Linked DNA regions of Homo sapiens: region 2 is linked to region 1. Evidence: fine-mapped expression QTL. A gene starts in region 1. The other region holds a variant in brackets. All regions are shown on one strand. Distances are from middle to middle.

Region 1 (2,914 bases):
ACCTTCCTATGGGTTAAAGAAAAAGATGCTTATTTAGAGGCTTAATTATAGACCTACACAAAAATAAATACCCTTATAATTTATCTCTCATTCTAGTTTTCAACTTTTTAATCTAAGTTCATAATTACCGTTTCTCTAAGTGCACAATTGTTGTAAATATAGCCTTTACTCTCAACAGCTTTTGCCAGCTAATAAGAGATTCAGATAGGATTAAAGAAGATTAGCAAAGAGGGCAAATGAAGGGTAAAACAAGCGTCTGCCAAAAACTGAAGAGATAAGGCTTGGATGTCTTCAACGTGGCTTTCTAGAACATATTATGTCACTCCGAGGCTGGCTTAACGCTTCTAATACACAACAAAAGAGTAATTAACGTTTTAAAAGTCACCAAACTCTTTAAAAAGCAACGCAGGAAAAAAAGATCCCAAACTAACCAAGTCGAAGTTTTACAGAAATTAAATGAGCTATTACAATGGGAAAACAAAGACTGTATCTTAAAATATAAAAGCACAGTTCTCTGTGCTCATATTCACAAATTATTTCAAAGCTTATACACAAAAAAAGTCCACCCCGACGAAGAGATTAAACGTCCTGCCCGGTGCCTGCAGTGGAAGCAGGCGGTGGCGCGGTTGGGGGAACTTTCTCCCTCCCGGTCAAGCCTCGGGAATTGAAGGGCCGGGGAGGCGGGGCCCGATCGAAAAGCTGGAAAGTCACTTTTGTTTTCACCATTATTTCACTTAATGGGTTGTGTTTCTGAATAAATAAAGTCAGATAACTTTGGCTTCCCTCTTTGAGAATTCCGTTATCATTAGAACAAATGTCTGTTTCTTTTAAACGATTATCTAACCACATTTGCATACAGCTCTTTCCTTGTAGGATTGAGATTACTAACCACTAAAAACCAGTTTTATTGCTCTCGACACCGCACTCTCGACCTGTCCCTAAATTAAAACGGATTACTTGCAGAAAAGGGACAGTTTTCGTCACACACTTTCTGATCCGACTCTGCAAACCAGGGCTCTTAAAAGGCTCCAGGGACCGCGTGGTGGAAGGAGGGGGCGTCCCCGGGCGCCGGGAGTCCGGCGCCGTTGGGGGGGACGGGGGTGTGCGGAATTCCACTTTCACCTGAGCGTCCTTTGGGATGCACCAGCGAGGGCTGGAGTCGGACCTAATTCCTGTTTTTCTCCCTCCTTTTAGATTTTGCAACAGTTCTGAACTCAGTTCCGCTGCCTCCCTGAGACCCAATCCTGCCTCTCTGTCCTAAAAACAGTTTCCACCGCCAGCCCAAGCAGCAGGGGAGCAGAGGTGGGAGATCCCGGAGGAGAGTTTAGGGGCGGGGGTCTCAGGCTAAGGGACGCCCGGCCGTCATCCTCCCACGCCAGGCCGGCCCCCGCGGTCCAGGAGGCGGGAAAGTGGTCAAGAGGTCTGGGAGACACCGACCGCCTTCCCTCGGGCTGACCACTCCCGCCCGCTCCGCCCCTCCGGGGACCCTCCTCCCTCCAGTCCTTCCCCTACCGGCGTCAGGGACCGGTCTCCGGGCGGAGATTGGCCCTGGTAGCACAGGGCGCCGAGGGGACATGCCCGGCCAGCCTCGCAGGTCGGGCTCCGGCTGGGTCGGACAGAGGGTGGTGGCCCTGCAGCCCGCTGGGGATTACCTGTCCGCGCCTGCTGCTTACCTCGTTCGCTCCCTTGTGAAGCTCCGGCGTCTTGTGTGTTTCATCTCCTAGGAAACGGCGGGGGCAGCAGGCGGGCCTACGGCCGGCCCAGAGAGGGCGTGGCCTCGCGGGAAATCCCCGCCAATTCCCGCAGGCCCCGCCTTCCCCGGGGCGGGGCTTCATGGAGCCGGGGGACTGTCGGCTGAGCTGCAGCAAGTGTGCCATTTAGACTTGGGGTTTAGGGGAGTTGATTACCTTTTCAGTCAGGTCTTTGTCAGAAGTTGGTTTGTTTGCCCTTTATTTTGTTTTGGTTTTGTTCCGATTCATTCTACAAAGTCTTGATTAATTAAAATATGGTTCCCAGACCGGGCAGAGCAAGAGAAGGAAGTCTGTTTGCCTCATACTTGCACTTGTTTACTTGTGCCTGGGGAAAAACTGTTCTTGTATGCAGTTCCTTAAATTGGTCAATTCCTTGGGTATGTATTACCTCTTGAGCTGCCCTTCTAAGTTTGTTTCCATTTATTCATTCAGAGAACCTGCCTAGTATCAGCCACAGAGTTAGATAGTGGTAATTCCAAGAAAAATGACTGAATGTGTGAATAAATGGGTAAATTGTAACTAGTCTAGAATTTAGAGAGGAAGGCACACTTGTGTTACTGCAAATAGTTCAGATTGGCTGGCAAAAAGGGTCTACGAAACAGAAACATAAGTGATGAAGCAGTGGTGCGGCAAGTTAGTAATTATTAGGTGTCAGGATGTGGGCTTGGGACCAAGAATAGCGCCAAGGTAGACACGACAGACATGCCTGTGGCCCTCACAGCTTAAAGTGAAGTAGGCTTTCACGCGTATGTTTATGGCAGCACAATTCACAATTGCAAAGATGTGGAACCAATCTAAGTGCCCATTGACTAATGAGTGGATAAAGAAAATGTGGTATATATACACCATAGGCTGCTACTCAGTCACAAAAAAAGAATGAAATAATGTCTTTTGCAACAACTTGGAAGAGTGGGAGGTCCTTATTCTACGCAAAGTAATACAGGCGTGGAAAACCAAAAACTGTATGTTCTCACTTATAAGCAAAAGCCAAGCTATGAGTATGCAAAGGCATACACAGTGAAATAATGGACTTTGGAGACTCAGAAAGGGGAGGATGGGAGAGAGCCTAGGGATAAAAAAAACTATGCACTAGGTACCATATACACTACTCAGATGATGGGTGCACTAAAATCTCAGAATTCACCACTATATAATTCATCTAT
Region 2 (2,914 bases), 53 kb before region 1:
GAATGCATAGCTTTGGTGGGGGGTGGGGGTTGGTGTTTTCTGGAAGCATATTCATCATCTTGATTTTTGCTCCTAAGCATTTCTTGAGCAGAATTCTACTAGTGGTAGAAACAGGAGGTCCAGAAAAGTCCTTGGCGACAGACTGAGCTACCAAAGAGCTCTGTGATTAGATTTTTTGCTTCACTGCTGCCCTTTCTTTGGAGATTCCAAGACACTTGAACCTGACCTATCTATACTCTAGTTAGCAGCAAACATTTTCTTTGCTCTACTTACCTGGAAGATATCTTGATTGTTTCAAGTAGTACTGTTTAGAGGTTGGAGCAGTTGACAATTCGGAATCAGATTTTAGGGAAGTAACAGCAGGTAAGCTCTTGTTTTCCCCTGTCGAGTGGTTGGAGCCTGAGGGTACTGGCTCTGGAAGCCTTGAAAGCCAATGAAAGGTAGCATTACAGCACGAACAACGAGAGGATCTCGCCCACCCTCTGCACATCTCGCCCACCCTCTGCACATCTTCCTAAGCCAGTCAATCTGACCTCACTTAAATGGTTTCCATCAGTCTTTTGGCTAAGTGACAACTTCCCCTCCACCCGCGTAGATATTGGGTCGTGCACAGACTCATTTCTGATACCAGTATGTGACAGGAACCTTTATAACTGAGCAGCAATTTACTTGTGTGTAACATGTTTCTATCTGTCCTGCAACGGCTGCAGTTGGATTCATAACGTGGGAAACTGGTGTGCTGAGAGGGAAATAACAGCCATCTTCACCTGTTGACTAAAATAATTTACAATCAATGAGGTTGTTTGGGGCATGGTTTGGATGGCCTAAAAAACTGAAATGGGGAAAGAAGTGCTAGAAAAGCTCCCGTATACAATTTCCCGTCACCCTAGTGTCAGGCACAGAAAATAGGTATTTGTGGAGACATGCCTGTGTCTCAGCCAGAACAGACTTGTGCAGTGGCTAAGCACCTCGCTAGCTGTTTAGTGGTGTTTGTTAGTATTAAGACTGACTCTCTGCCTGTTGGTCCCTAACTCCCACAGTCCTGTTTCTGTGTACGGACTGAGGACTTTCTGCTTCGAGGCTTAGTTCTGTCTCATTCCCGAGGCCTGTCCCTGAGGCCTGTTTGACCAGGCAGCAGTGCGTGAGGCGGCCATTGCTTTGTGTTGCTGCCCATCCCTCTGTGTGCTGTAATGAGCCCTCCACGACCAACCTTCTCCCCACCACCCTCCGACTGGGCTCCTTCTTTGCTGGGGCCTGAATATACTGCCCAATTTCCATCACTTGTTAACTCCAAGCATCCATGGTTTCCACCTAGAAATTCATGCTACCAAACCCTACTCACCAAGTTGGCTCCCTTGGAAATGGATACTCACTTGGGTGGCCCTTTGAACTGCTGGCCACCTGCTTGGGGGCAGTTCTAGGCACAGGTGCG[T/C]CTGCTTCAATGGGAACAGTCCCGCCATTTCTGGCAACTTTCCCTTCCCCTGAGCCCACTGCTGTTATATCACTAACTGAAATTCTACCCATTCCCAAAACTACTCACTCTAAAAAGACTTTTCTGTCCTCATCAGAGGGATCTCTGCCCATAGACAGAACTCCCAGAGCTCCTTGCAGCTGTCACTAGTGGCACTAAATGCACACACTTGTCATGTGTTATAGTCCTCTGGAGGTCTTATTTCTGTTGCCATATATTTGATGAGTTGAAGAGAGGCTTAATTCCAACTAGGTATTTAGTAAACATCTACTGAATATAAATACAAGTATAAATCTAAATATAAATATCTTGCTTTTTGTTCACTTTTAAGAAGACAACCAGGCTGGGTGCAGTGGCTCACGCCTGTAATTCTAGCACTTTGAGAGGCAAAGGCAGGTGGATCACCTGAGATCAGGAGTTTGAGACCAGCCTGGCCAACATGGTGAAACCCTGTCTCTACTAAAAATACAAAAATTAGCTGGGCATGGTGGCGGCCACCTGTAATCCCAGCTACTTGGGAGGCTGAGACAGGAGGATCACTTGAACCCGGGAGGCAGAGGTTGCAGTGAGCCAAGATCGCACCACTGCACTCAGCCTGGGCGACAAGAGCAAAGCTCCATCTCAATCATAATAATAATTTAAAAAATAAGACAACCATTAAATAAAAGGTATACATGTTAGTATTTGGTACTCTGTATTCTTTATGGGGAGGCCCTGGCTGCCTGAGAGACCAAGCAGGGGATGGCAGGGTCTGTTCAATGCACCAGTTCACCTCCTATTCACCACTCCACTAATGCACCAGTTCACCTCCTATTCACCACTCCACTAATGCACCAGTTCACCTCCTATTCACCACTCCACTAATGCACCAGTTCACCTCCTATTCACCACTCCACTAATTCACCAGTTCACCTCCTATTCACCACTCCACTAATTCACCAGTTCACCTCCTATTCACCACTCCACTAATTCACCAGTTCACCTCCTATTCACCACTCCACTAATGCACCAGTTCACCTCCTATTCACCACTCCACTAATTCACCAGTTCACCTCCTATTCACCACTCCACTAATGCACCAGTTCACCTCCTATTCACCACTCCACTAATGCACCAGTTCACCTCCTATTCACCACTCCACTAATGCACCAGTTCACCTCCTATTCACCACTCCACTAATTCACCAGTTCACCTCCTATTCACCACTCCGCTAATTCACCAGTTCACCTCCTATTCACCACTCCGCTAATTCACCAGTTCACCTCCTATTCACCACTCCGCTAATTCACCAGTTCACCTCCTATTCACCACTCCGCTAATGCACCAGTTCACCTCCTATTCACCACTCCGCTAATGCACCAGTTCACCTCCTATTCACCACTCCGCTAATGCACCAGTTCACCTCCTATTCACCACTCCGCTAATGCACCAGTTCACCTCCTA

Evidence for each region.
Region 2: its variant is fine-mapped to the expression of MAK in whole blood (TOPMed, PIP above 0.99).

What each region holds. Positions count from the first base shown.
Region 1 is chr6:10,836,830-10,839,743 of GRCh38, forward strand. MAK (male germ cell associated kinase) reads right to left here and starts at 1,710. Exons shown (of 15, transcript NM_001242957.3): 1 at 1,674-1,710. RefSeq lists a silencer at 1,773-1,902 and enhancers at 2,123-2,182, 2,233-2,392.
Region 2 is chr6:10,784,151-10,787,064 of GRCh38, forward strand. It overlaps MAK (male germ cell associated kinase), which reads right to left. Exons shown (of 15, transcript NM_001242957.3): 11 at 274-422. Among named protein-coding and RNA genes, the nearest start is that of TMEM14B, 38 kb to the left of the region's middle. The variant T/C (reference allele first, on the strand shown) is at 1,433.